Linked DNA regions of Homo sapiens. The protein of the gene in region 2 interacts with the protein of the main gene of each other region in a pairwise test. Each region holds a gene or a part of one and is shown on either strand. Other genes may lie near its edges. The genes, in order: FBF1, TADA2A, AATF, PPP1R16B, ZNF564, TTC23 and TTC9C.

Region 1 (4,191 bases), about 38 Mb from region 2:
CTCCACTCACTGCAGCCTCTGTGTCCTAGATTCAAGCGATTCTCCCACCTCAGCCTCTCTAGTAGCTGGGATTACAGGCGTGCGCCACCACGCCTGGCTAGTTTCTTATTTCTTTATTTTTAGTTTCACCATGTTGGCCAGGCTGGTCTCGAACTCCTGACCTCAAGTGATCCTCCAGCCTTGGACTCCTGAAGTGCTGGAATTACAGGCATGAGCCAACTTGCCTGGCATAAAAAAATTTATTTATGGTCTCGCTAGGCTGGTCTCAAATTCTGGGCCTTAAGTGATCCTGCTGCCTCAGCCCCCCAAGTAGCTGGGATTATAGGCACAGGCCACTGTGCCTGGCTAAGGTCATCATTATTTAAATAAAGCATGTGCTTATATATGAAAGGTATCTAGGGAATTCAAATGTCTCTGTGAGAGCTGAAGAGGCTAGGATGACATTTAATGGGCAAGAGCATCTGTCCCAATGTCAGGCCTCAGCTAATGTGACAGATTCGAGTGTCAGGAAGTGGGAAGTGCAGCTGATGGTTGCGGGGGCTAGACTGCGGAGGGCAGCCAAGGTGGCCGAGGGGCTTGCGGTGCTGAGGAGCGGACAGGGCGTGGTGGGGGGCCTGGCCAGGCGGCCCCTGCATGCTCAGGTGGGCAGTGCTGAGAGCCTGGCCAGGGCAGGGAGATGTAGAGGCAGGAAGCGGCAGGTGGGGCCTTGACCTCCTGAGGAAGTGAGGTCACGGGAGTGCCGCTACACTTGCGGGTGCCCTGGAGAAGAGGCCCCGTGGCAGGAGGGGCAGGAGGGCCAGGAGGACGGGCCTCACCTGCTCCAGCAGCCGGCTCTGCTCATTCAGCCGTGCCTCCATCTTCCCGATGACCTCCTGTTGCCGGCTCCGCTCCTCCTCCATGTCCCGCTGCTGCTGGCCCAGCCGCTCCTGCAGTGCTGGGGGCAACCCACAGGGTGCTCAGCAGCTGCTCCCCCTTCCCACCAGGAGCCGGGGTGGCTGAGAGGGGAGGGCGTACCCCGCAGCTGCTCGTCACGCTGCCGGATCCCCAGCTCCCGCTCCTGGGAGGTGGTGAGGTGCGAGGCCTCCACGCGGGAGGACAACTCGTGCAGGCTGCTGGAGAACTTCTCCATCTGGTGGATGATGCTATTCAGGGACCTGGAAGAAGACTGGGTCACCCCCTCCTGACGGTCTCGGGGACCTTCCGGCCCCCAACGTCAGGCGGGCATGGTTGGGGCAGCGCACATACCGCGTGTGGGAGGTGGCACTGGTGGCCGCATCGACCTCTCGGTCCTTCAGCAGCTTTAGCCGCTGCAGCTGCTCCTCGTGGTCTCTGCGCATGTCTAGGATGGACGCCCTGAGGGGAGGCGGGAGGGGAAGGCGGTCACTCTGAGCTGGATCACCCTGATGCGGTAACTCCTTGTGGAAGGGTGTGTTTCCGTGCAGCCCTTGCTCCCAGGCCTCTCCTCCGCCGGGCACTGCCTCAGTTTCCCCAGCTCCTCTGTCTTATCTGTCATGGTGCCTCAATGCTACACGCACTAAGATGGGCATTCCTCCCATTATTCAGCTTTTCTTTTTTTGGAGATGGAGTTTTGCTCTGTCACCCAGAGTCTCTCACTCTGTCGCCCAGGCTGGAGTTCAGTGGCATGATCTCGGCTCACTGCAACCTCTGCCTCCTGGGTTCAAGCAATTCTCCTGCCTCAGCCTCCCGAGTGGCTGGGACTATAGGCGCTCACCACGCCTAATTTTTTATATTTTAGTAGAGATGGGGTTTCCACCGTGTTGCCCAGGCTGGTCTCGAACTTCTGAGCTCAGGCAATCTACCCACCTTGGCCTCCCAAAGCACTGGGATTACAGGTGTGAGCCACCACGCCCGGCCCCAAGCAGTCTTTCTTTTTTTTTTTTTTTTTCCTAGAGATGAGGTCTCACTATGTTGCCCAGGCTGGTCTTGAACTCCTAGCCTCAAGCAATCCTCCTGCCTTGGCCTCCCAAGTGTTTTGTTTTTTAAATGTTTTTAGAGACAGGGTTTTGTTCTGTGGTCCAGGCTGGAGTGCAGTGGCATCATAGCTCATTGCAGCCCTGATCTCTTGGGCTGAAGGTATCCTCCTGCCTCAGTTTCCCAAGTAGCTGGAACTACAGGAGTAGCTGTCATGCCAGCTTATTTAAAAATTGTTTTTAGAGATGAGGTCTCACTGTGTTGCCCAGACTGGTCTCAAACTCCTGGCCTCAAGTGATCCTCCCACCTCGGCCTCCCAAAGTGCTGGGATTACAGGTGTGAGCCACTGCACCCGGCCCTGAGCAGTCTTAAAAGGCTGCCTCTGCCTTCATCGACCTCTGACTCCCTTAGGTAACTTTTCTTAGTTTCCTTCTCTTCTAGAAAGGCAACCCTATAAACATGGCAGGCACAACAGCGCAAGCCTTTCCCAGGTGGATCTTGTTTCTAGCCTCTACTGCATGAGCAGGCGAGTGGATGACCCTGTGCTTAGTTAGACCCTAGGCGGCTTGCTGCTGCCATGCCATGCCTGAACAGCCTGTGGGTACCCCCTCCTGCCTCTGTAAGAGCAGGTGGCACCCCCACCCATGGGTGTGATGGGTCAGTGTGCTCAGCCCTCAGTCCTCACTCACTGGACTGGGAGGGAAGGACCCAACCCCTGTCCAAAGGCTGCTGAGCCACAGCGAAGGGTCTCGTGGGGATGGCTCTCTTCCGGCTACTCCTTGCAAGCCTGCTCCCCAGCTGCCTGTCCCTGGGCCTCACCGCTGCAGCTCCCGGAGCCGCTCCATTTCCTGGTCCTTCTCCTGCGCTATGGCCGCCAAGCGCCGCTGGTGCTGGGCCGTAAGCTCAGCACGGGCCTGTTCGGCCTCCTGGCACTGCGACAGATACCGAGCTGACAGCTCTTCGTTCTCTCTCCGGAGCCGCTCCTCCCGTTGCTGGTACGATGTTTCTAGCACCTTGATGCGGCTTCTGCCAACAGAACACCCAGCCATGGCGCAAGGAAGGCAGAGGGCTGCCGCCTAAAGGCCTCTCCAGGCACACTGGGTGGCCTTTGGGGTCAGTGTGAGATCCAAGGCAGAGCTGGGGCCAGCGCCAGGGTACCTGTGTGCACTCTCGATGAGCTCCAGGTCTGCCTGGTGCTGCTGCTGCAGACTCCCCAGCAGCAGCTCATGCTGGGCCCGTTCTAGCTCCAGCTTCCGCACCTGGGAGACAGCAGGAGGGCCAGCAACCAGGGAGGGGAGGTGGCTGTACTCCACGCTGCCCTGTGCCAACAGCCCTTCCTCCCTCCTGGGGAAGCTTCCAGCCACTCTCAGTGTCCCCTCCTGTCGCAACCCTGCCACCAGCACCAACGGCCCCGCTGCCCCTCACCTGGGCCTCCAGCTCTGCCAGCCGGGCCTGGCTATGCAGCAGCTCGGCCTGGAGCTCAGCGGGGCTGCACTGAAGTTGCACCTGTGCTGCCAGGAGCTGCTTCTGGTATTCTGTGCTCGGCAGCAGGCTCCGGGCCAGGGACTCTGGGAGCAGGGGCTGGAGGAGAGGAAGAGAGGTGTTTCTAGTTAGGGAGGGGACAGGGGCCCAGCTGAGATCAGCTACCTCCTGGCCCACTGCTCACTGGACCTCCCTGCATCTGATCTGTGGCTGCAGATGGGGCCAAGGCCTTGGAAAGTAACAGTCACTGCGGCTAAGCAGTCCCCAGTGTACCTCCCCTTGCAGATCTGGTCAGGAGCATGTCTCCCTCCACCCTCCGGAACAGCTTCCTCCCCAGCATGGTCTCCGGCTTCCCAGACAAATGGCTGAACCCCAGCAGAGTCTTCGCTATGACAAAAGCTGATGCTGGCTTTTCCTGTCAGGCCTGAAGCCCACATGTTGACACTAATCTGGTTCCCACGAGCTGTCCCCTACCCACCATCTCCCAGGGACACACTCCTGGGGGGGGGGGGGGCACACCTCCCAGGCCCAGGTGTCACAGGTGACTGCCACACATGGGAAACAGAGGCAGAGGTGTGGTGGGAGGATGGCAAGGGTGGAGGAGGCTTTCTTGACAGAACAGGACCCTGCGGCCCTGCTTTCTGACTGCAGCATCCCAGCTCCCCGGCCTGGCTGCCTCCTTAAACTCCCCACTGATGTAGGCAAATTAACACCCAGCTCTGCCCAGGAGCAGCGAGGCTAGAAATTCAGGCAAGTTCTAGTGGGGGGTGCCCGGGG
Region 2 (4,191 bases):
AGGTCAGGAGTTCGAGACCAGCCTCGCCAACACAGCAAAACCTTTTCTCTACTAAAAATACAAAAAATTAGCCAGGTGTGGTGGCATGCACCTGTGGTACCAGCTACTCAGGAGGCTGAGGCACGAGAATCGTTTGAACCCTGGAGGTGGAGGTTGCAGTAAGCCGAGGTTGTGCCACTGCACTCCAGCCTGGGAGACACAGCGAGACTCTGTCTCCAAAAAAAAAAAAAAAGGAGGTATTACCAGCCTTTAAGTTAGTCAGCTATAAAACTGTTTCTAGAGAGTATGAGGAAAGAGAAAAGGGAAGTGAAAACATTCATATCTCATTACTTGTACCCTGAGAGTCATTCAGGAAAGATGGTCATTTATAATTCATCATGTTTTTGGTTATATTTTATTAAGAGACCCACTGGTCCCACACGCACATGAGATTAAAAAGTTCGCCATCACTGACACAACCAAGCGAACAAAAATAACAAACTGATTCTTGGGCTTGACACCAAGGCAATTAATAATAATGAGTCAAATACTGTATTCTCTAAGCAACTCATATGTATAATCATAAGCTCTCCAAAGGGATTGAAAAAAAACTTGCACTCATAATAGCATAGAAAAGGTTTTCCCTTTTTGACATCTTATTTTACAAAGGAAAGCACTAAGTTAACTGATATGTTCAAAGGACTCAAGGTAGGTGGAACTACACATTGGCTTCAAGCACCTTGATGTCCTGTATAGAACTCTGACCCTTAGAGTATGTTCCTTCTTTGCCACATTATAATCCTGACTCTTTTTTTTTTTTTTTTTAAGAGATGAAGTCTCACTCTGTCACCCAGGTTGGAGTGCAGTGATGTGATCTTGGCTCACTGCAATCTCCGCCTACCCGGTTCAAGTGATTCTCCTGCCTTGGCCTCCCCAGTAGCTGGGATTACAGGTGTCTGCCACCACGTCCAGCTAATCTTTATACTTTTAGTTGAGACAGGGTTTCGCCATGTTGGCCAGGCTGGTCTTGAACTCCTGGCCTCAAGTGATTTACCCGCCTCAGCCTCCCAAGGTGCTGGGATTACAGGCACAAGCCACCATGCTGGGTCGATCCTGACTCTCAATAGCTGCCATACTAACTCCTCCTATCTTCCGTGATATCATTAGCTGTCCAAGTCATCAAATCACTCTTTATCTGCTACTGAAACAGGGCCCAAGGATGAGCTAAGTATATCTTATCAAGATAGGGAGGCACTTACAGTGAAATGGAATGGCTGTGTCAGCAGTTTTTGCTTCCTCTGCTTGTTTCAGGTTCAGCAGGGTAGATGCAAACAGAGGGTTATTGATGAAATGCTTCATATAGTGCTTCTCACACTCCTCCTTGGTCTTGGTGCACATTTGATTGGCTACATCCTGCCTAGAGGATTGTGGGAAAAAGAGAGAAGTGGTACTTGTATTTACACATAATACTAAAAGCATCATTTGCTCTTTTCATATTTTAAGTCACATCCATATAATATACTCTCATATTTCCAAATTGATATCAAAAAGATATCAGCAGAAAAATGACATAAATATAAGCCTAGATTGGTGTAATCTGGTGTTCCATATCTTGCTAGTCTAAAACACAGAAATAATGACTAAAAAGTCCTTTCTTTTCCACTTAAAGAAAGATGACTGAGGCCAGGCGCAGTGGCTCACACCTGTAATCCCAGCACTTTGGGAGGTAGGTGGATCACCTGAGGTTGGGAGTTAGAGACCAGCCTGATCAACATGGAGAAACCCTGTCTCTACTAAAAATACAAAATTAGCCAGGCGTGGTGGTGCATGCATGCCTGTAATCCCAGCTACTTGGGAGGCTGAGGCAGGAGAATTGCTTGAACCCAGGAGGCAAAGGTTGCAGTGAGCAGAGATCACGCCATTGCACTCCAGTCTGGGCAACAAGAGCGAAACTCCATCTCAAAAAAAAAAAAAAATAATAAATAAATAAATAAATAAATAAATAAATAAATAAAGATGACTGGAAAATTTGTAAATTTTCCTGTGAGCTAGGCCCTACAGAAATAATTGCTGTAAATAATAAGAAGTGACTTCAGAACATTCAAAATATACAGAAATATAGTTTTATTTTGCCTAATATTTTACGGTTTACCAAACACTTAACATAAACATTTCTTTACTAGAGCTGCTATGAGATGCCAGACACTGAGCTAGAAACATTCACAACAGAATTTAAGTTAAACCTAGTATCAAATTTGTGGTATGGATATTGTTACTATCTCAATTTCAAAGAAGGAAAAATGAGGCCCAAAATAATTAAGAAACTTGCTTAAGAATCTGGCCAGGCATGGTGGGGCACATCTGTTATTCCAGCACTTTGGGAGGCCAAGGTGGGAGGATGGCTTGAACTCAGGAGTTCGAGACCAGCCTGGGCAACACAGTAAAATCCTATCTCAACAAAAAATACAAAGATTAGCCAGGGGTGGTTGCACACGCCGGTAGTCCCAGCTACTCGGGAGCCTGAGCTGGGAGGATCACTTGAGCCTGGAAGGTTGAAGCTGAAATGAGTCAAGCTCATGCCCCTGTACTCCACCCTGGGCGACAGAGCAAGATCCTGTTTCCAAATAATAATAATAATAATAAAATTTAAAAATTAGCTGAGTATGGTGGCGCACACCTGTTGTTCCAACTACTTGGGAGTCTGAGGAGGGAAGATCCCTTGAGCCCAGGAGTTCGGGGTTATAGTGACTGTGATCACACCACTGCATTTCAGCCTGGGTGATAAAGTGAGACTGTCTCAATAAAAAAAAATCCCTGACTTGAGCCAAGGTAATGGAGAGGTACAGGTGGAAGTCCTTTCCTCAAGGTCTCTTTTTCACAGCATTTCACTTGACCTCCCCTAAGGCATCACTGTGCTGTTTTGTGTACTTCAATCACTTGTATTTTTAAGTCCCCTGCTAAACTATAAGCTTTCTGAAGACAGGATGCATCTCATAATTCTTAGCTCTAGCCCACTCACTGCCAAACTTAGTGCCTTACCCACAGCGGATAGAGAAGCTATGTCTTTTTTATGTTCTTTGTTAAGAGGGAAGGAGGACAGAGAGGTTTAGACTATTTTAGAGAGAATGGTAAGCAAAAAATGAAAAACTAGGCCAAAGATGACTAGCAAACTCCTCACAAGTGATTACTTTTCTACCTCCTTTGGTATTTCTCATTGTACACAGTATTTTATGATGCTTAATAAATACTGAATGAATGAATACAAGCAAAATGTGAACTAAATTCAGGTCTCCTTCTTCAGGTCCCTGGACATAAGGGAGGCAGGCAGCAGAGTTTATTCTGATGAACACCAAGAAAGGTTATATACACTAGTAAGTCAGGACAGGGAGGACCTAATTAAGAGTCCTTCAGTAATAAGCTATGTAATCACAAGAAATCATTTCAACCCCCTAGGCTTCAGATAATTTGTGAACAAAATATATTCAATAATGCCTCTGCTATCTAGTTCATAAAATAAAAGCATCCATATGAAAGTGTTCCCAAAAGATAAAAACGAAAGTGGTAGTATTAAGTGGTGCTGCCCCCTAGGTCAACAGCAATAAGTGCTATTCAATTCCGCCGGTTTTGGACTAAGGCAGGTAGGTGTTTGAAAGCTAAAAACAGAGAATGCTATCAGGAAGTCTGTGAAACTTGAATCTTACGTATGACCATCTAGCTAAAGTCTGATTCACTTAAATGACTAGGGCATCTACAACTAACAAAAATTCATAAAATCAGAAGGGAGTAATAACTAACGAAACTAAACTTCCCTACTATTCAGAAAGGAATAATAATCAATCTTCCCACTGTTGATACATCCAAAGTGGCCTTTTAAAGCTGCTCAGTCATGGACCGCTAAACATCCCATATCCTCGTGACACATTTCGACACTGGAAAAATAATGTACAGAGGGGACTAACTTGCCTCTAAATCATGGGTTGATAGGAAAGCAACACATACTTTCTCTTCCTGAGGTTCCTTCCTTTACTCTTCAACAACAGCTTCTTCTCTGAGTCCACTAGGGCAGGACAACTCTTAACACCAAGCTCTTACCAATTTCCAAAGCCACAGTCCATCACAGCTTCTAAAAGGGCCATTTCTTCTTGAGCAGTCCAGCTGGGATCAAGGACAGGAAAATCTGAAGTCTAAGGAGAAAAAAGTTTTGCTTAAGAA
Region 3 (4,191 bases), 450 kb from region 2:
AGCCCAATGCGGGAAGGTAAGAGAACAGAATCATGGAGTTGCTTATTTTCTTTTCATTTGGATAGTTTCCCATCATTTATGAAAGAAAAGCTAAGTTCTCTTCAGGCAGATATTAATGTTAGTAAAATAGAGTCTCATATTTACCTGATGGTCAGGATGGCACATAAGTTGGTGATTAGATTTTAGATTTTTATATTTAGTTGTACCTGATGTGCTTTGCGGTCTTAGACAAAGGCTTGCCTTCTCTTTAGATCTATTGGAATTAGAAGATAAAAGCACTTTGTTTTTTAGAGATGGGGTCTTACACTGTCATCCAGGCTGGAGTGCAGTGATGTGATCGCAGCTCACTGCAGCCTCAAACTCCTGGGCTTAAGCGGTCCTCCTGCTTCAGCCTCCCAAATAGCTGGGACTGCAGGCACTTGCCACCATGCCTGGCTATTTTTTTTTTTTTTTTTTGTAGAGACAGGGTCTTGCTGTGTTTCCCTATCTGGTCTCAAACTCCTGGGCTCGAGCCATCCTTCCACCTCAGCCTCCCAAAGTGCTGGAATTATAAGCATGGGCCACTTCACCTGGCCAAAAGCACATTTTTAAAATATTAATGCTTAATTAATGTTTATGAAACATTCTGTGCCCATACCATATATTGGAATCACTGGTCACAGCCATCTCCTTTGAATAAAAGCTGTTATTATGAAAGATGGAAAAATTTCAGAAAACAGCAAAATAATTATTTTTTCCCCCTGAAATTATTACATTTGATGAAGATTTTTCCCCCTTTTGTTTACACCTGCTGTATATACCTGCTTGCTTTTTTTCCCTCGAGCTTATCTTTTGTTTCACTTTTTATCTACTGAACTAGTTGGGAGGACAAAAAGGAAACTCACATTTATTGAGCACCTATTATATGTTGAGGTCAGTAATCCAGTGAGTGCAACTGGCAGATAGTTGGAGGTTGTATTACATTGCCATGGCAGTTGCATAGATGGCACTGCAGGTTAGTTAGTGCTAATTGTTGCCTACCGCTTTGAGTTTTCTTCACATTCAGCTTCTCTTGTATTTGGTTCAACTAATATTATTCATCTTTCCTTAACAGTTGGTTACAGAGAGACACATTTCCCTTATTGATTTGAGGATTAAGGTCGTAGAAATATGGTTATGTGTTTAATTTTTAAATACTGTCCTATAATACTGCAGGCCTGGTTCATACACATTTCTAATAATTCTTTTAAAACCTCATTTATTTTTATGGTTTACTTACCTTTTAAAAAATATTTTGAAACTAGTTCTTTTTATATTTGTTTTAAAAGTTACATGAGGCTGGGTGTGGTGGCTCATGCCCTGTAATCCCAGCACTTTGGGAGGCCGAGGCAGGTGGATCACTGGAGGCCAGGAGTTTGAAACCAGCTTGGCCAACATAGTGAAACACCATCTTTACTAAAAATATGAAAAAAATTAGTCGGGCATGGTTGCACACACCTGTAATCCCAGCTACCCATGAGGCTGAGGCATGAGAATTGCTTGAACCCAGAAGTGGAGGTTGCAGTGAGCCAAGATCGCGCCACTGCACTCCAGCCTGGGCAACAGAGCAAGACTGTCTCAAAAAAAAAAGTTACACGAGTTTTTGATTGATCTCATGAATATTCTTCTCAAAGAGCAAAAGCCATCCTTATATCTTTGGTGTTATTTTGAATGGAGACAGAACAGGTAAGGCCTAAATATTCTCAGTCCTTTATGTGAGCCTAGTTTTTAAAATCTAAGTAATGTTTGTTTACACTGGACATAATATTCTTACTGCTTTTCTAGTGAGGAGATTTCTAGTGAAGATGATGAGCTGGTAGAAGAGAAGAAGCAGCAACGAAGAAGGGTCCCTGCAAAGAGGAAGCTGGAGATGGAGGACTATCCCAGCTTCATGGCAAAGCGCTTTGCCGACTTTACAGTCTACAGGAACCGCACACTTCAGAAATGGCACGATAAGACCAAACTGGCTTCTGGAAAACTGGGGAAGGCAAGTGTGTGTATGCGCGCATGTATGTGTAAGATAGGTTGTGGCAACTTGAAGAAGTTTTAAGAAATTGGAACTACAGCTCATTTATATGGATGTTGTCACGATGTAATGGTAATCATTCATTTCTATAGCAAAATCTACTGAACTTCTGGCACTGGGGTTTATACGATTCAGACTTGGGATTTTAACTTTATTAGAAAGAATGTTTTATTCTTAAAATTGAGGCCTTGTAAGTGTTCAAGTGCTGAAAATCCAAATACTTTAAAGGAGTGGATTTCAAAGCAATAATTATTAAAGTATCAGAAGCTAATCTCCGTGTGTAGAAAAATGATATGACCTGCTTAAGACTAACTTTTTTTTTTTAAGAACAATTATAGCCACTCACAAACTCAGTCCTTTACAGAAAGTCCCTCCTGAAAAGATGATTTTCTATCTCTCTGCTGACACAGAAAGATAGAGAAACCAATGTAGCTTGCCTTCAGCACTGATTTTCTGCATTATCTGACACTGCTTAATGTTGTTGCAGGGTTTTGGTGCCTTTGAACGCTCAATCTTGACTCAGATCGACCATATTCTGATGGACAAAGAGAGATTACTTCGAAGGACACAGACCAAGCGCTCTGTCTATCGAGTTCTTGGCAAACCTGAGCCAGCAGCTCAGCCTGTCCCAGAGAGTTTGCCAGGGGAACCGGTAAGAACTCTGTAATGCAGAGTGATTATGGGGAATAGTTTCTATGAGGCTTATTAGCTGAAAAACTTGTAGCTATTACCTGTTTATATAAGAGGTTAGTGAGAGAAAGGAAAGCAACACTACTTTACTGGATTACTGAGAGAAACTTGAGTGTATGTGAGAGGAGAGAGTTTTTAAAAATGGGGCTTCTATTAACTCCTGTGTGTCATCTTCTCTTAATTTTGAGTTTGATGCAGGAGTCTGGTAGTAGAAGCATTCATAATCCAATTTTCAAAATTCAGTTTTAAAGCTACTTCTGTAGAAATGTCAGTATTGAAACAAGTGTGTACTTTAGGCTCAACGTTTGCCATTTAGGTACTTTAGAAAGGGTGCAGAAGTGGAATAGTCAAATTCTTTTGTTTAAAGGAAACATTTAAAATTTTTTAATTATGGAAGAAATATATACTTAATCCTTTTTTAGTTTATAGCAACTTAAAATGAAAAGCAAAATTCTCTACTCTGAAAATTTCACTCCTGAGGTGAAATTTTTTTATTTTTTTTGTCAATTGCCTGTTAACGTAACTCCTGAGGTGAAATTTTCAGTATTTAATAGTTGTAACAAGTTTACAGTTAATAATTAATAGTTGTAACAAGTTTTTGGGTCTTTTCTATTTGTGTAACTATATATGTGTGCAAATAACAAATATATATGTATAAATATGGTTGCCTTTTTTACTAAATGAGAGACATTTATGTAGTATAAATATGTAAAATATTACAACTGTATTTAAAGTCTTGCAACTTTTAAAATCTAATAAGTCCTAGATACTCTTTCCATTTCATTACCTAGAGAGCTACCTCATTTTTCCTAATGACCTCAAAGTATTCCATTGTATGGATATGCACTATCATTTATGCAAACAATGGATATTATGTTGTCTCCAGTTTCAGAAACACTGCTACAGGAAAGATTCCTGTACATGTATTATGTGTTCGTATAAATATATGGGTAGATTTCTTGAAGTGGAAGTGTTAAAGAAAATACACCAAATTCTGATAGATGTTGCCAAATTGCCTCCAAAAAGGCTGCATTAATTTCAGTCGTAGAGGTGAAAAATGGTATCTTCTAATTCTAATTTACACATATTTAATTTGAATGAGGGTAAACATATTTTCATATGATTATTTATGGGTTTTTTTGGTCAACTGCCTGTTAATGTTTTTGCCTGTTTTCATATTGGACTGTTTTGTTTTTTAATTTTAAGAACTTTTTATATCTTAAGGAAAACAGTGCTTTGACTGTTCTACATATTATTTATAGTAGCTACATTAGTTAGATAGCCTTGTTGGGATTCACTCTTTTCTTACTCATTGTTAACATAGGAGATCCTTCCTCAAGCCCCTGCTAATGCTCATCTGAAGGACTTGGATGAAGAAATCTTTGATGATGATGACTTTTACCACCAGGTGAGACTTTTACACTCTCTTGTTACAAATCATGTTTTAGCATTTTAAA
Region 4 (4,191 bases), on a different chromosome or scaffold from region 2:
GACCTCAGCATTGTATATGTTTGTCATTGGTGTTTTTTTTTAATTTTTTTTAGATGGAATCTTGCTCTGTTGCCAGGCTGGAGTGCAGTGGCTCAATCTTGGCTCACTGCAACCTCCGCCTCCCAGGTTCAAGTGATTTTCCTGCCTTAGCCTCCTGAGTAGCTGGAACTACAGGCGCACGCCACCATGCCCAGCTAATTTTTGTATTTTTAGTAGAGACGGGGTTTCACCATGCTGGCCAGGATGGTCTCAATCCCTTGACCTTGTGATCCACCCGCCTCGACCTCCCAAAGTGCTGGGATTACGGGCGTGAGCCACCATGCCTGGCCATGTCGTTGTTTTTTAAAGCTAAAGAGAGACTGTTTTTGAAGTGATTGCAGCAGTAAGTAGAATGCATCGACCACAGAATTGGCAAGATCTTGGAGGTCAAGGAGAAAGGAGTTCGTTTCCTAGGGAGGAAGACAGAGGCTGCAAGGACTGAGGGTTGGGGGTGGGATGAGCAGGTGGTGTAATTGGACAGTTGACCAGGAATGTGTGTCTGGTGGTCAGCCCATTTCCAGAACGGTCTTCAGGAGAGTTTTTCTGCATTGCAGTGCTTGTTTACCCTCAGGGTGAGTCAAAGTCCAGGATCCTGTGGGGAGGGGAGCAGCTTAACTAAAATTTGGTTAAATCATTTACCGCTGGGCGCAGTGGCTCACGCCTGTAATCCCAGCACTTTGAGAGGCCCAGGCAGGCGGATCATCTGAGGTCAGGAGTTTGAGACCAGCCTGGCCAACATGGCGAAACCCTGTCTCTACTAAAAATAGCCAGGCGTGGTGGCAGGTGCCTGTAATGCCAGCTACTTGGGAGGCTGAGGCAGGAGAATCACTTGAACCTGGGAGGCAGAGGTTGGAGTGAGCCAAGATTGCACCACTGCACTCCAGCCTGGGCAACAGAGTGAGACTCTATCTCAAAAAAAAAAAAAAATCATTTAGCAAGCATTTAATTTCGGTTGATAAATTGACAGTTTAATCATTTCAGAGGAAAAGAATGAGAATTTGGGGGACTGTGTTTGGGTTGTCCTAGGAAAAGGAGGGGTCGTCTGAGCGTTCTGGAAATCCTATGGGGAAGGGTGATTCTGTGCAGTCAGCCATTCCCCAGAACACAAAATGTGGGGGTTTTGTTTAACCTTCCTGTTGTCCAGTATCTCAGTTCAACATTGCCAAGATGATGGTGCCTACCACAAAGGGTGTTCTAGGGTCAATTGTGTTCTTATTTGTATAGAACTCAGCCCATAATTTGTACCTCATTAAGCATTAGGCAGATAAGTACATTTAGAAGTTCCCTGCATCATGAGAAAACCTCTTTCGTCTAACCCACATCCTTCAGGCTGGAGTTAATTCCTCTTCCTTCAATGCTCTGATTTCTGACACTGGAGATGGATATAGGTGGGTTTTGTTTTCTTTTGTTGAGACAGGGTCTCATTCTGACAGGGTCACTCAGGTTAGACTGCAATGGTACAAACATGGCTCACTGCAGCCTCACCCTCCTGGGCTCAAGTGATCCTCCTGCCCAGCCTCCCATGTAGCTGAGCCACAGGCACGCACCACCATGCCCAGCTAATTTTTAAATATTTGGGTAGTGATGAGGTCTCACTATGTTGCCCAGGCTGGTCTCCAACTCTTAGGCTGAAGCCATCCTCCCACCTCAGCCTACCAAAGTGCTGGGATTACAGGCATGAGCCACTGCACCCAGCAGGGATTTTTTTCTTTTTAAACTAATAGATTTTTTTTTTCCGAGCAGTTTTAGAACTCTAGAAAAATGAGTGGAAAGTACAGATATTTCCCATATACACCCCCCTCCACCCTGGTTTCCCCTGTTATTAACAACTAGCATTAGTGTGGTACATATGTTATCACTGATGAGCCAATATTGATACATTATTATGAACTAAAGCCCATAGTTTACATCGGGTTTGCTCTTTGTGTCGTAACTCCTGTGGGTTTTGACAAATGCATAATGTCATGTGTCCGTCATGATAGTGTCACACAGAATGCTCTCGCCACTTGGTTTAGGTGGTTATATTAGACAGTTGAGATTGTGAACAACTGGTGAAAGAGACCAGGGCTGTCCCACTAAACAGCCCTGGTATTCTACTTACGCTTCCTCCCCAAACTCTAGCAATCACTGATCTTCTACTGTTTTCATAAGTCTTGCTTTTCCAAAATGTTATATACGTGGAATTATATAATATGTGATGCTTTCAGATTGGTGTTCTATATGGTTTTTTTTTGAGACGGAGTCTCACTTTATTGCCCAGGCTGGAGTGCAGTTGTGCAATCTTGGCTCACTGCAACCTCTGCCTCCTGGTTCAAACAATTATCCTGCCTCAGCCTCCTGAGTAGCTAGGATTAGAGGCCTGCGTCACTGCGCCTGTCTAATTTTTGTGTTTTTCTTTTAGTAGACACAAGGTTTCACCATGTTGGCCAGGCCGGTCTCGAACTCCTGACCTCAAGTGATCCATCCACCATAGCCTCCCAAAGTGCTGGGATTATAAGCGTGAGCCACCACGCTCGGCCTGTACATGTTTTTTTTTAACTGTCTAGATGATGCCAATGTGCATCCAAGATGGGATCAGTGTCTCAGATCTTTGCCACTCTAAGCATCAGCAGGAAATTCTTAGAAGTGCCAAATTGCAGGCCCCAACCCAGACCTATTGAATCAGAATATGGATTTTAACAATATCCCTAGGCAACTCACATACACATCAAAGTTTGAGAAGCACTGACTAGGACCACCAAGAAACGGTCTCTCCATGACATGGCATCAGTCTGCCTGCATAGTTCAGAAGGAGCCATTAAAAAAAAAAAAAAGGTTGGACTCGGTGGCTCATGCCTGTAATCCCAGTGCTTTGGGAGGCTGAGGTGGGAGAATCATTTGAGACCAGGAGTTCAAGACCAGCCTGTGCAACATAGTGAGGCCCTGACTCTAAAAGGAGAAAGCGAAGAAATACACACTCATAAATGGAAACTTACTATGGAAAGTGTTCTTTGCCTTATCACATATTACCATATATATATATAACATATATATGTTATATATGTTATATATGTATGTTATATATAAATACATATATATGTTATATGTACATATATGTTATATATGTACGTTTTATATATATTTATATATGTATGTTATATATAAATATATGTTAGAAAACTAGATTATAAACTAGATTATATATATATATCTTGGACATCTTTCCATGCCAGCTTGTGGAGAATTCCTTCATTCTTTTTGCCAGCTACAGAGCATGCCAATAGAAGTACTGGCCACAGTGTCCTGCTTGCCCAATGATGACTTTCAGGCTTTGCACTAATGAGAGAGAAAATCTGTGAAATGGGCTTGCTGGTGCAAAGTATACAATCTTTTCTAAAAATTTTTATCATTATTATTGTTTTTATTTTTTACTGAAGAGCTGGGGAGAGAAGAAAGGAAAAAAAGAAAAAAATTTCAGTGAAGGATGATGCAAAACTGTCCATCAAAGAGACTGTAGCAATTTACATTCTCACTTATTTCCCCATACCCCTGCCAACACTGAGTAATAACACACTTTAAACGTATTTGTCAGTGTGATATCCAAAAGTGATATTTTGTTGTTTTAATTTTTATAGTATTAACGATTAGTGGGGATGAATATTATTCCAATGCCATGTATATCTATATATTTTGCTGTGGGCTACATATTAGTATCCCCTGCCTACTATTTTTATTGGGTAGATAGGCTTTTAAAAATTGACTTTTGGCTGGGTGCGGTGGCTCATGCCTGCAATCTCAGCACTTTGGGAAGCTGAGGAGTGTGGATCACTTGAGGCCAGGAGTTCAAGATCAGCCTGGCCAGCATGGTGAAACCCCATCTCTACAAAAATACAAAAATTTGCTGGGTGTGGTGGTACGTGCCTGTAATCCCAGCTACTCGGGAGGCTGAGGCAGGAGAATTGCTTGAACCCGGGAGGCAGAGGTTGCGGTGAGCAGAGATTGCGCCACTGCACTCCAGCCTGAGAGACAGAGCAAGACTCCGTCTCAAAAAAAAAAAAAAAAGGACTTTTAAGAGCTCTTTATACTTTTAGAAAATTAGTCTCTTTTCTGTAATATATGTTGAAAATATTTTCCTAGTTTCTTCATGTGTCTTTTGACCTTGTTCCCTGTTCA
Region 5 (4,191 bases), on a different chromosome or scaffold from region 2:
GTTCGAGACCAGCCTGGCCAACAAGGCAAATGCCCATCTCCACTAAAAATACAAAAAAATTAGCTCGGCGTGGTAGAACGCACCTGTAATCCCAACTACTTGGGAGGCTGAGGCAGGAGAATTGCTTGAACCCAAGAGGCGGAAGTTACAGTGAGCCAAAATCGCGCCACTAGACTCCAGCCTGGGGATGGAGACTCTGTCTCAAAAAAAAAAGAAAAAAAAAATCAAATTAGGAAGCACTACATGGAGAAATGGCATAGATCCTTAGAAAAGAGGCTGAATATTACCATGATATATGCTTAAGCTGTCCCAAATACAGTGCTTTATTTAATTCCATAAAATTCACAACCAGATTTGCTTGGTATGTTATTAAACTTAAGAAATGCTATTTCTGCCAGGCATGGTGGCTCACGCCTGTAATCCCAGCACTTTGGGAGGCCGAGGCAGGCGGATCACATGGTCAGGAGATCAAGACCGTCCTGGCTAATACGGTGAAACCCCGTCTCTACTAAAAATACAAAAAATTAGCTGGGCGTAGTGGCAGGCACCTGTAATCCCAGATACTCAGGAGGCTGAGGCCGAGGAATCGCTTGAACCCGGGAGAGAAGAGGTTGCAGTGAGCCAAGATTGTGCCACTGCACTCCAGCCTGGGTGACAGAGCGAGACTCTGTCCAAAAAAAAAAAAAAAAAAAAGAAATGCTATTTCTTGGCAGGGCATGGTGGCTCACGCCTGTAATCCCAGCACTTTGGGAGGCTAAGGTGTTCAAGACCAGCCTGGCCAACACAGTGAAACCCCGACTCTACTAAAAATACAAAAATTAGCCGGGTATGGTGGTGGGCGCCTGTAGTCCCAGCTACTCGGGAGGCTGAGGCACAAGAATTGCTTGAACCGGGTAGGCAGAGGTTGCAGTGAGTAAAGATCACGGCACTACACTCCAGCCTGGGTAACAGAGTGAGACTCTGTCTCAAAAAAAAAAAAAAAAAAAAAAAGGTTTAAGAAACACTACTTCTAGGCCAGGCACACACATGGAATCCCAGCATTCTGGGAGGCCAAGGTAGGAGGATCACTTGAAGCCAGGAGTTCAAGATCAGCCTAGGCAACATAATGAAACCTCAACCAAAATTAAAAATTAGCTGGGCATGATAGCACGTGTCTGTAGTCCCAGCTACTCAGGAGGTTGAGGCAGGAGGATCGCTTGAACCCAAGAGTTGTAGGCTGCAGTGAGCTATGATCACGCCAGTGCAGATCATGCCTGGTGACATAGGGGGACCATCTCAAGGAAGAAAGGAAGGAAAGAAAGGGAAAGGAAGAAAGAAAAGAAAAAAGGAAAGGAAGGAAGGAAAGGAAAAAAAGGAAAGAAAGGAAGGAAAAGAAAAAAGGGCCGGGCACCATAGCTCATGCCTGTAATCCCAGCACTTTGGGAGGCCGAGGTGGGTGGATCACCTGAGGTCAGGAGTTCTACACCAGCCTGACCAACATAGTGAAACTCTGTCACTACTAAAAATACAAAATTAGCAGGGCATGGTGGCACATCCTGTAGTCCCAGCTACTTGGGAGGCTGAGGCAGGAGAATCAATTGAATCCCGGAGGCAGAGTTTGCAGTGAGCCAAGATCATGCCGTTGCACTCTGGCCTGGGCAATAAGAGAGAAACTCCACCACAAAAAAGAAAAGAAGGGGCCGGGCGCGGTGGCTCACGCCTGTAATCCCAGCATTTTGGGAGGCCAAGGCGGGCAGATCACCCAAGGTCAGGAGTTCAAGACCAGCCTGGCCAAAACAGTGAAACCTTGTCTTTGTAAAAATACAAAAAAATTAGTCAGGCGTGGTGGGGTGCACCTGTAATCCCAGCTACTCAGGAGGCTGAGGCAGGAGAATGGCTTGAACCCAGGAGGTGGAGGTTGCAGTGAGCTGATATCACACCACTGCACTCCAGCCTAGGTGACTGAGTGAAACTTCGTCTCAGAAAAAAAAAAAAAAGAGAGAAGGGGAGGGGAGGGGAAGGGGAAGGGGAAGGGGAAGGGGAAAGGGAAGGGACCACTTCTAAAAACTGAAATAGCCGGGTGCAGTGGCTCATGCCTGTAATCCCAGCACTTTGGGAGGCCAAGGTGGGTGGATCCTGAGGTCAGGAGCTCGAGACCAGCCTGGTCAACATAGTGAAACCCTGTCTCTACTAAAAATACAAAAAATTAGCCAGGCATGGTGGCACACCTGTAGTCCCAGCTACTCGGGAGGCTGAGGCAGGAGAATCACTTGAACCCGGGAGGTGGAGGTTGTGGTGAGCCAAGATCACGTCACTGCACTCCAGACGGGGCAACAAAGCGAGACTTCGTCTCAAAAAAAAAAAAAAAAAAAAAAACAACTGAAATAGGACTCAAATATCTAAAAACAGCAAAGACTTCGTACAGTACACTGTTAGAAAATGTTACAGCCTGAATCTGTGTGTCCCTCCCAAAATTCATATACTGAAATTCTAACTCCTAATGTCGTTGCATTAGGAGGTGGCATCTTTGGGAGGTAATCGGGGTTAGAGACCATGAGGGTGGTGCCCTCATAAATGGGATTAGCACCTTTAGAAGAAATGACAGGAGACAGCTTGCTTCCTCTCTCCTCTGCCTTGTGAGGATATAATGAGAGATGATGATCTGAAAACCACAAAGCAGGCCCTTACCAGACACTACATCTGCCAGCACTTGAACTTGGACTTCCCAGCCTCCAGAACTGTGAAAACTACATGTGTGCTGTTCAAGCCACCCAGCCTATGGCAATGTATTACAGCATCCCCAGGTGACTAAGACAGTACAGCACTTTCTCAACCATACATCAGGGTTATGAAATAATTAGGACACTATGGCAGTAGCAGAAAGATAAACCAAAGAAATATGGGAAATTCTGAAACCAGGGCATCTATGTAGGGTATGTGAACCTATGACAGAGCAGGTATGGTCAGTCAGGGACAGAAACGACGGACAGTTAAACCCCAGCAGCAGTGATAACCCATCTTCTGCCATCATCTCCACATAATGTTGTGAATTCAGTGTAGAGCTGTCTATTGCAGTGAATTCTTAAAATTGTATGCTACCTCAGAAGCCACTTTGAATATGGCTTTAACTTTCTCATACCAGAAGCAGGGCTTAGTCACCCTTAATACAGTTTCCAGTTCTACGCCTCCTCCCATTTCCTCCATGTGGTCAATCCAGTTATCTGCCTTACACAGCCGCCTCCCTGTGACCACCTCCGCATGAGACGGCTAGATACAAACTGCTGGAAATCATCCAACTGACCCTACACAAGGAATGCACAGAGAGGCTGCAGGGACCACCTCTCAGTCACCATGTGACTCCACGAAATTCCCATCTGGTTGCTCTAAACTCACCAACTAGAACTCCCACAGAGTCTCCAATAAAGGCATCTGCCCAGATTCCTCTGTCTTGCTCCCTGGTTAGGTGTGTATATCAGGTCTGAAACAGCCACCCTCTTCCTGTTGGCCTACAAGGAGAACTATCCTTTCTCTCTGGGATCTATTACCTAGCAGCCTGTTTCACCCACAGTCACAAGGAAACCCACATTCAGAAGGTTAAACAAGCCTGAGGACCATTCATGTGAAGATGTGGCCCACTCCTAAGAGATGAGTGAGGGAGCCGGGTGTGGTGGCTCATGCTTGTAATCCCAGCACTTTGGGAGGCCAAGGCGGGTGGATCACCTGAGGTCAGGAGTTTGAGACCAGCCTGGCCAACACGGAGAAACCCCCCGTCTCTACTAAAAATACAAAAAATTAGCTGGGCGTGGTGGCGCATGCCTATAATCCCAGCTACTCAGGAGGCTGAGGTAGGAGAATCACTTGAACCCAGGAGGCGGAGGTTGTGGTGAGCCAAGATCGCACCATTGCACTCCAGCCTGGGCAACAAGAGCAAAATTCCGTCTCAAAAAAAAAAAAAAAAAAAAGAAATGAGTGAGGGAAACATCCTGGGAGCTCCACGCACCCTACTCTCCTCTCCTCATGATGTGATTCACGGTCTCGATTCTCACCAGTGACCAGATGTTTACCTGGAGTCAGTTTAAGGTTCTGACCTCTGGTGTCCTTTCTGTGACACCCGAAGTGTAAACACCGACCAGTTCTAACAGCAGGTGTCTAACAGTTCAGTTCTGACACCACTCAGAATTAGGACAGACCTACAAGTTCAGGGCTCAGTCT
Region 6 (4,191 bases), on a different chromosome or scaffold from region 2:
AAGATCAAATGGTTAGAATTAAACTTAATAAGAAATATACAAAACCTATATGAAGAACGCTTTTGGATGTGCCTGAAAGATACAAAAGTAGGAATGAAGAAATGGAAAGATATCCCTTGTTCTTGGATAGAAAAACTCAATATCACAAAGTTGTCAATTCTCACAAGATTTATTTATAAATAATGCAATAAAAATACTAGTAAGCTCTTTATGGAGTTAGACAAATTGATACAAAAATTCATGTAGAAAAATAAACACGGAAGAATAGCTAGAACACCTGATATTCTAGTAAAAGAAAAGCCATAAGGGGTGTCTACTCCTATCACATATTAAATCATTCTATAAAATCTCTGTAATTAAAACTGAAATATTGACACATGAATAAACAGAAAGACTAGTGGAAGAGAAGAGAAATCTAGAAATAGACTTAAGTCCATAAGGAAAATCAGTATATGATGAAGGTGTTATCTGAAGTCACTGGAGCATAGATGGGCTCTCTAATTAAATGGTGCTGGACAACTGGGTGGCCATTTGGAAAAAAGGTAAGATTAGATCCATTCCTCATGCCATCCACACAAATAAACTCCAAATTTAAAGAAGAATGACAATTGAAGAAAGTGTAAGAGAATTCCTCTATAAACTCAGTATAGAGAGAGCACCGCAAACATAAAGGACTGATCAATTGTACTACGTAAAAAATTAAAAATATTTGCATAGTAAAAACTGATAATTCATTTAAAAAATATGTATGTCTAAGAGGCTTACTATGTCTTTTACCCAAAAAGTATCAGGTTAGATCTACCACAAAAGTGATGTCATCCTATCTAAACAAGCCACTTCTAAAGTTTCATTTAAAAGAACCACCACAAGGGAGAGAAATTGACCTTGGAGAGGGGAGGGAGAGCCTAGTCTCGTGTTAGTACTGGTTCCAGCTTTACCTTCTTCAGTTTCTTGCGGGCCCCACTGTGGTTCCCCTGCGCCAGGTCTGCTCCTCCCAGGAGCCGGTATGTCTCTGCCACCTCGGGACTGAAATCGCCAAATGCTTCCACTTTGGCTTCCAGGGACTCTCTCAGGATCGAGGTTGCTCTCTGTGAAAGGAACAAAAAGCTATCTGGTTAACAAGCTCAAAGGCTGATTAGGATCATTACGCAACTTGTAACATTTTCACATGGGTGTGGTAGTCTCACGAGCTGAGCCTGTTCTCCTCTTGTATTAGTCCATTCTCATGCTGCTATGAAGAGATACCTGAGACTGGGTAATTTATAAAGCCAAGAAGTTTAATTGACTCACAGTTCCACATGGGTGGGGAGGCCTCAGAAAACTTACAATCATGGCAGAGGGCACCTCTTTCATAGGGCAGCAGGAGAGATAAGTGCTGAGCAAAGGGGGCAAAGCCCCTTATAAAACCATCAGATCTTGTGAGAATTCAGTCACTATCGCAAGAACGGCATGGGGGTAACCGCACCCATGGTTCAATCACCTCCCACAGGGTCCCTACCATGACACATGGGTATTATAGGAACTATAATTCAAGACGAGATTTGGGTGGGGACACAGCCAAATCATATCACCTCTGGTTGAACAAGAGTCAGGAAACAACACGAATGTGAGGAAAGGTGTAAACTATGAAGAGAGAGGACACCTGGCAAAATAAACCCACTCAGCCATTACAGGAATCCATTTCAGTTGAGTAGTAAGAACAAAAGCTGACATGGATCAGTCCTCACATGTCACTAATTGTGCTGAACACACACAATTGTGTGGGTCTCATTTAATTTTTGCTGTCTTCTTTAGATGGGTAAAATTTTAATCCTCATTAGGCAGAGGAGGAAACAGGCACGGCAGTTAAGAAACTTGCTCAGAGTCAGAGGGCTCAGCTGTGGTGGTGCTAGGATCTGAATCCAGCCAGTGATCTTCATACCTTTTTTTTTTTTTTTTTTTAAATCCGTCTCACCGTCTCAGCAGATCTTCCATTTTACAACAGCAGGTGGAAATCTGGAGGTTTTTTTTTTTTTTTTTTTAGACAGAGTCTCTCTTTGTCTACCAGCCTGGAGTGCAGTGGCATGATCTCAGCTCTCTGCAACCTCTGCCTCCCAGGTTCAAGCGATTCTCCTGCCTCATCCTCCCAAGTAGCTGGGATTGCAGGCGCCCACCACCATACCCAGCTAATTTTTGTATTTTTAGTAGAGACAGGGTTTCACCATGTTGGCCAGACTGGTCTTGAACTCCTGACCTCAAGTGATCCACCCACCTTGGCATCCCAAAGTGCTGGGATTACAGGCGCGAGCCACAATGCCCAGTCTAATTTTCATACATTTTAGTCCCATGCTTTTCTCCCTCTGTCCACAATGCTATTCTTACAGAAGTGAAAATATAGCATTCCTGGGCAAATTATCTATGTATAGAACATCCTGAACACACTCCAGGCTTGGCTATTCTCATAGGAAATCGTTTAGGAAACTGAAAGTAAACATTCCAACATGACATGACATTTTGTTTGGTTTATCCAATTTATTTATACTAACATGGAATAAAAATTATGAATTGGTCAGGACATAGTATTTCCTGATATTAGCTTCTTCAGACACCAAAATATGCAGGGGGAAACCCTGTTAAAGTATGTCAATCCTCCATACTTTCTCCAGAAATTCTTCCACGATCTTCCACATGAAGGCACGACATCAGCTGCAGAGCATGGATGCTGAATTTAACTGGCAAATACAGCAGGGACCATGGGAGCTTCCTCATGACACAGCCCCAAAGGGGTCCCAAAAGTGCTCCACAAACAGAAGGACAAGGAGGGCGTTTAATCCTTTTGTTGGCAATAATACAAGTTAGGGGATAGGGCCGGGGTAGGGGAACCACATTACAGGTGCTGATGAGGCAGAAATAAATTTCTCAGGTGAAAGAGGAATCTCTGTAGAGGCAGAGTGATTGTGTAACTCAGCAGTGAGGCCCCACTGAGGTACATGAGGGACTAGAATTTAAATCTAGACTTGCCTGAGGGTAAAGCCCATCACATCTCCCAAGTTCTGAGAGCAAGGACTTGGACTGCTGAGAGTGCTGGGTTTGGTGATATTTCTGTGGGAAAATATCACTGTCAGACTTAGAGGAGCCAGTGATGGGGAGAAGACCCGGGGAGACTCCCTTTCCCAGATAAAGCTTTGGATGCCGCCTACAGCCTGACTGCGGAAACGGGGAGATGTGAAGGAAGTTAAATGGCACGGGTTTCTAGGAAACTGAGATAGTATCAACCTCTGCTAGGAAAAGCTTAAGAGAGAGGAGTGAAGAGTAAAGAGGACTTAGGTGGGATGAGAAGAGGGTATGGGCCACTGGGAGCACAGGAGGAACACATGGCCTGTTGAGGGCCAGTGAGTGGCCAGGCTGAGGAAGTCACAGAAGATTCTTGAGCAAAAGAGTGGCACAACTAGAAGACAAACCCTCACGGAGTAGCTTAACCTGTGGCAGAGTGACCTTCACTTACATTTTACCTTAAAAGGCATTTCATCCCTCAAATATCATGTTCCACAGTGCCCATGGCCATGTGCTGTGGGAACACCTGGGATGGCCTGAGCACAGCCCCATTCTTGGCTCCGGGACTGTCCCTGGGCCCGGCCCTTGTTGGCCAACACCTGCTAGAACCCACAGTGAGAGGTTTGCAACCAAATGGTGAGAACAGCATGAGACTGCCATGTTTGGCTGGGCAGGTGGTGCCACACACAAGGGTGCCTGGCAGGAGCATGGGGAGGGCTGAAATCCAGCCTATGGTCCTCTCCAACATGGGCGGTATCTACCTGAGGAAGGGGCAGCTTTTTCTATTATGATAAGGGCATTGGATGGGCTGGCAGTGGCCCTAGAATGAAAAGAGCCAGTTTGCTAAAATCTTCGAGGGCAGCTTAGGAGAGTGAGGTGCATCTTTTGATCAACACTGATCTGGGTGACTTGGGCAAGGGCAGTGAGGCATAGCATCAGTGACACTGAGCATTGGCTGACTCAGCAAGACACTATGGTGGGAAGCCAGGCAGTACAGGGGAACTGATGCATGGCCCACAGGAGTCAGAACAGTCAGCTGGCCTGTGGCCAAACATGCATCCACCTCTCTGCTCATCACTCCTCACCACAGGCAAGAGGGTCTCTGCTTTCACAGGTTCGGTCTAGTTGCAAGATAGATGTTAAATATCCACATGAATA
Region 7 (4,191 bases), on a different chromosome or scaffold from region 2:
AAAGTGCTGGGATTATGGGTGTGAGCCACCATGCCCTTCCCAAACTGGCCCTTTTATACACTTAATGTCCAAAGTACATTTCCACCTTCACACTTTTGTAGGCTGTCTTTCCAGCTAGAATGCCCTGTCCCTTGAATGACACTTATCCAGATTTGGACTCAAAAGTTGCTTCCTTAGAGAAGCCTTCTGTAGCTGGTGCAGTGGCTCACAACTGTAATCCCAACACCTTGGTAGGCCGAGGAGTTCAAGACCAGCCTGGGAAATGTGGCGCAACCCGGTCTCTACAAAAAATACAAAAATTAGCCAGGCATGGTTGTGCTTGCCGGTAGTCCCAGCTATTCTGGAAACTGAGGTGGGCCAATGTCTTGAGCATGGGAGGCCGGGGCTGCAGTGAGCCAAGATTGGGCCACTGCCCTCCAGCCTGGGTGACAGAGCAAGTAAGACTCTGTCCCCCGATTCCTCCCACCAAAAAGCCTTCCAGAAGCAAACAGCACTCTGACTTCATTCATTCTCTGTCCCGACATAGTTTTATTTTTCTTAAAGCACTTTTTTTTTTTTTGAGACAGAGTCTTGCTCTGTCGCCCAGGCTGGAGTGCAGTGGCGTGATCTCACCGCAAGCTCTGCCTCCCAGGTTCATGCCGTTCTGCCCCAACCTCCCGAATAGCTGGGACTACAGGCGCCCACCACCACGCCCAGCTAATTTTTTTTTTGTATTTTTAGTAGAGACGGGGTCTCACCTTGTTAGCCAGGATGGTCTCCATCTCCTGACCTAGTGATCCTCCCGCCTTGGCCTCCCAAAGTGCTGGGATTACAGGTGTGAGCCACCGCGCCTGGTCAGCACTTTTTTTTTTTTTTTTTTTTTTTTTGAGACCAAGTCTCACTCTGTCGCCCAGGCTGGCGTCAGTGGCGCAATTCTGGCTCACTGCAAGCTCTGCCTCCTGGGTTCACACCATTCCCCTGCCTCAGTCTCCCGAGTAGCTGGGACTACAGGCGCCCGCCACCACGCCTGGCTAATTTTTTGTATTTTTAGTAGAGACGGGGTTTTACCGTGTTAGCCAGGATGGTCTCGATCTCCTGACCTCATGATCTGCCTGCCTCAGCCTCCCAAAGTGCTGGCATTACAGGCGTGAGCCACTGCGTCCAGCCTCTTAAAGCACTTTTAAAAATTAATTTACTTGGGCCGGGCATGGTGGCTCATGTCTGTAATCCCAGCACTTTGGGAGGCCGAGGTGGGCGGATCACCTGAGGTCAGGAGTTCAAGACCAGCCTGACCAACATGGAGAAACCCATCTGCACTAAAAATACAAAAAAATTAGCCAGGCGTGGTGGTGCATGCCTGTAATCGCATCTACTAGGGAGGCTGAGGCAGGAGAATTGCTTGAACCTGGGAGGCGGAGGTTGTGGTGAACCAAGATCGCGCCATTGCACACTCCAGCCTGGGCAACAAGAGCAAAACTCCGTCTCAAAAAAAAAAAAAATTAATTTACTTGGGCCAGGTGCGGTGGCTCACGCCTGTAATCCCAGCCCTTTGGGAGCCCATGACAGGCAGATCACGAGGTCAGGAGATGGAGACCATCCTGGCTGATATGGTGAAACTCCATCTCTATTAAAAATATTTTAAAAATTAGCTGGGTGTGGTGGCAGGTGCCTGTAGTCCCAGCTACTTGGGAAGCTGAGGCAAGAGAATCGCTTGAACCTGGGATGTGGAGGTTGCAGTCAGCCAAGATCGTACCAGTGCACTCCAGCCTGGGCAACAGAGGGAGACTCTGTCTAAAAACAAACAAACAAAAAATTCATTTACTTGTTTCTTCTGTATTCCTCCACTTTTTTTTTTTTTTTTTGACCACTTGGTGGGGATGTTGTAGAAGGGATACAGACATCAGCACAGGCCCTTTAATGTGCTCATCACTGCTGATTCTTGATCTTTCTCAGCACCATGATTTAATAATACTATGTTTAATTCCCACAGTTGTGAAATAGGGAGTGTTTCCCTTCTTAATCATAAAAAGGCAGAACATTGACCTGAATTGCCTGAATTGACTCCTCTGCAGGTTTGTATTTCAAGGTCCCATTAAGTCATCCAAGAGAATAGTGAAGTTATATGCTGTATTGTTACTGAGAATGATGATTTTGGAGTTAGACAACACTTCATTCAAATTTCATATTCCACCTAGAACCTGTAAGATCTTAGACAAGTTATTTGTCTGAGTCTTGATTTCTTCATCCACTAAATGAAGATAGTAACACCTATTTAATAGTGTAGATGCGAAGATTAAACAAGACAGTGTATATCAAGCACATAGCACAGCGCTTGCCATTTCCTGACAATTAATGGCAACCATTATTAACAAAGCTGCAGTACAAGAACTGTGGTGAAATGGGGGATTCAGGACATAGAGCCTCAGGTAGAAGAGATACAATGAAGGTTAGTTTGTTTTTTAAAAAATTGTAATTTATCTAATTTTTTTTTTTTAAGATGGAGTCTTGCTCCATAACCCAGGCTGGAGTGCAGTGGTACAATCTCGGCTCACTGCATATCTAATTTTATATAAAAAATTAATGGGGCCGGGCACAGTGACTCACGCCTGTAATCCCAGCACTTTGGGAGGCAGAGGCAGGTGGATCACAAGGTCAGGAGTTCGAGACCAGCTTGACCAACATGGTGAAACCCCGTCTGTACTAAAAATACAAAAATTAGCCAGGCATGGTGGTGAGCGCCTATAATCCCAGTTACTCAGGAGGCTGAGGCAGAAGAATCACTTGAACCTGGGAGGCAGAGGTTGCGATGAGCCAAGATCACGCTACTGCACTCCAGCCTGCACGACAGAGCGAGACCTCCATCTCAAAAAATAATAATAATAATGAGGGGGCTGGGCAGGGTGGTTCACGTCTATAATCCCAGTACATTGGGAGGCTGAGGCCAGCGAATCACCTGAGGTCAGGAGTTCAAGACAAGCCTGGCCAACATGGCGAAAACCCATCTCTACAAAAATACAAAAATTAGCCGGGCATGGTGATGTGTGCCTGTAATCCCAGCTACTCGGGAAGCTGAGGCAGGAGAATCACTTGAACCCAGGAGGCGGAGGTTGCCGTGAGCTGAGATCGCGCCATTGCACTCCAGCCTGGGCGACAGAGCGAGACTCCATCTCAAAAAAAAAAATAGGGTCTCACCTGGGCATAGTGGCTCATGCCTATAATCCCAGTACTTTGGGAGGCCAAGGTGGACAGATCACTTGAGGTCAGGAGTTTGAGAACAGCCTGGCCAACATGGTGAAACCCCATCTCTACTGAAAACACAAAAATTAGCTGGACATGGGTAATCCCAGCTACTCGGGAGGCTGAGGCAGAAGAATTGGTTGAACCTGGAGGTTGCAGTGAGCCAAGATCATGCCACTGCACTCCAGCCTAGCTGATGAGTGAGACTCTGTCTTAAAAAAATAATAAAAAAAGAATACATTTGTTATTCGGAATACACTTCTTATAACACTGCAGTGAATACTCTGCCAAAAAAAAGGGACAGGGGAGGGTCTCACTATGTTGCCCAGGCTGGTCTTGAACTCCTGGGCTCAAGCAAATCTCCTACCTCAGCCTCCCAAAGTGCTAGGATTACAGCATGAGCCACCATGCTCAGCCGAGTTTTAAATAAATTTTAAAGTATGTTCTTACCAGCTTTATAGCCAAGCCTAACTGGCTACTAAATATGTAGCAGAAAATCAGTAAATATTGAAGTAGATTACAAGATATATGAATTTTTTGTTTTGTTTTGAGACAAAGTTTCACTCTTGTTCCCCAGGCTAGAGTGCAATGGCACGATCTCGGCTCACCGAAACCTCCGTCTCCCAGGTCCAAGCGATTCTCTTGCCTCACCCTCCCGAGTAGCTGGGATTACAGGCATGCGCCACCACACCTGGCTAATTTTTATTTTCAGTAGAGACGGGGTTTCTCCATGTTGTCAGGCTGATCTCGAACTCCCGACCTCAGGTGATCCACCCGTCTCGGCCTCCCAAAGTGCTGGGATTACAGGCATGAGCCACTGCACCTGGCCGATATGTGAAGCTTTTATTCACTGCTGCATCCCCAGTGTGTAGAAGAGTGTCTGGCATATGGGAGACACTTTAGCATTTGTTGACTGAATGTTGTTACCACCCTGTTCAGTACTGTCTTGAGCTGGCCAGTGGAACCTGGTGTAAC

The links.
Region 1: the proteins of TADA2A (region 2) and FBF1 interact in binary tests that used the Homo sapiens proteins (3 or more experiments, as listed by UniProt).
Region 3: the proteins of TADA2A (region 2) and AATF interact in binary tests that used the Homo sapiens proteins (3 or more experiments, as listed by UniProt).
Region 4: the proteins of TADA2A (region 2) and PPP1R16B interact in binary tests that used the Homo sapiens proteins (3 or more experiments, as listed by UniProt).
Region 5: the proteins of TADA2A (region 2) and ZNF564 interact in binary tests that used the Homo sapiens proteins (3 or more experiments, as listed by UniProt).
Region 6: the proteins of TADA2A (region 2) and TTC23 interact in binary tests that used the Homo sapiens proteins (3 or more experiments, as listed by UniProt).
Region 7: the proteins of TADA2A (region 2) and TTC9C interact in binary tests that used the Homo sapiens proteins (3 or more experiments, as listed by UniProt).

The regions. Positions count from the first base shown.
Region 1 is NC_000017.11:75,916,917-75,921,107, forward strand, and holds part of FBF1 (fas-binding factor 1), read right to left. Parts: intron 3,514-4,191; coding exon 3,358-3,513; intron 3,192-3,357; coding exon 3,091-3,191; intron 2,959-3,090; coding exon 2,752-2,958; intron 1,354-2,751; coding exon 1,246-1,353; intron 1,155-1,245; coding exon 1,015-1,154; intron 935-1,014; coding exon 816-934; intron 1-815. UniProt on the Homo sapiens protein: Keratin-binding protein required for epithelial cell polarization. Involved in apical junction complex (AJC) assembly via its interaction with PARD3. Required for ciliogenesis.
Region 2 is NC_000017.11:37,437,710-37,441,900, reverse strand, and holds part of TADA2A (transcriptional adapter 2-alpha), read right to left. Parts: intron 4,164-4,191; coding exon 4,072-4,163; exon of another isoform or gene 3,943-4,071; intron 1,397-3,942; coding exon 1,239-1,396; intron 1-1,238. UniProt on the Homo sapiens protein: Component of the ATAC complex, a complex with histone acetyltransferase activity on histones H3 and H4. Required for the function of some acidic activation domains, which activate transcription from a distant site. Binds double-stranded DNA.
Region 3 is NC_000017.11:36,986,716-36,990,906, forward strand, and holds part of AATF (protein AATF), read left to right. Parts: coding exon 1-16; intron 17-1,803; coding exon 1,804-2,005; intron 2,006-2,531; coding exon 2,532-2,696; intron 2,697-4,058; coding exon 4,059-4,142; intron 4,143-4,191. UniProt on the Homo sapiens protein: Part of the small subunit (SSU) processome, first precursor of the small eukaryotic ribosomal subunit.
Region 4 is NC_000020.11:38,913,232-38,917,422, forward strand, and holds part of PPP1R16B (protein phosphatase 1 regulatory inhibitor subunit 16B isoform 1 precursor), read left to right. Parts: intron 1-4,191. UniProt on the Homo sapiens protein: Regulator of protein phosphatase 1 (PP1) that acts as a positive regulator of pulmonary endothelial cell (EC) barrier function. Involved in the regulation of the PI3K/AKT signaling pathway, angiogenesis and endothelial cell proliferation.
Region 5 is NC_000019.10:12,541,342-12,545,532, forward strand, and holds part of ZNF564 (zinc finger protein 564), read right to left. Parts: intron 1-4,191.
Region 6 is NC_000015.10:99,155,210-99,159,400, forward strand, and holds part of TTC23 (tetratricopeptide repeat protein 23), read right to left. Parts: intron 1,089-4,191; coding exon 939-1,088; intron 1-938. UniProt on the Homo sapiens protein: Participates positively in the ciliary Hedgehog (Hh) signaling.
Region 7 is NC_000011.10:62,731,149-62,735,339, forward strand, and holds part of TTC9C (tetratricopeptide repeat protein 9C), read left to right. Parts: intron 1-1,969; exon of another isoform or gene 1,970-2,051; intron 2,052-4,191.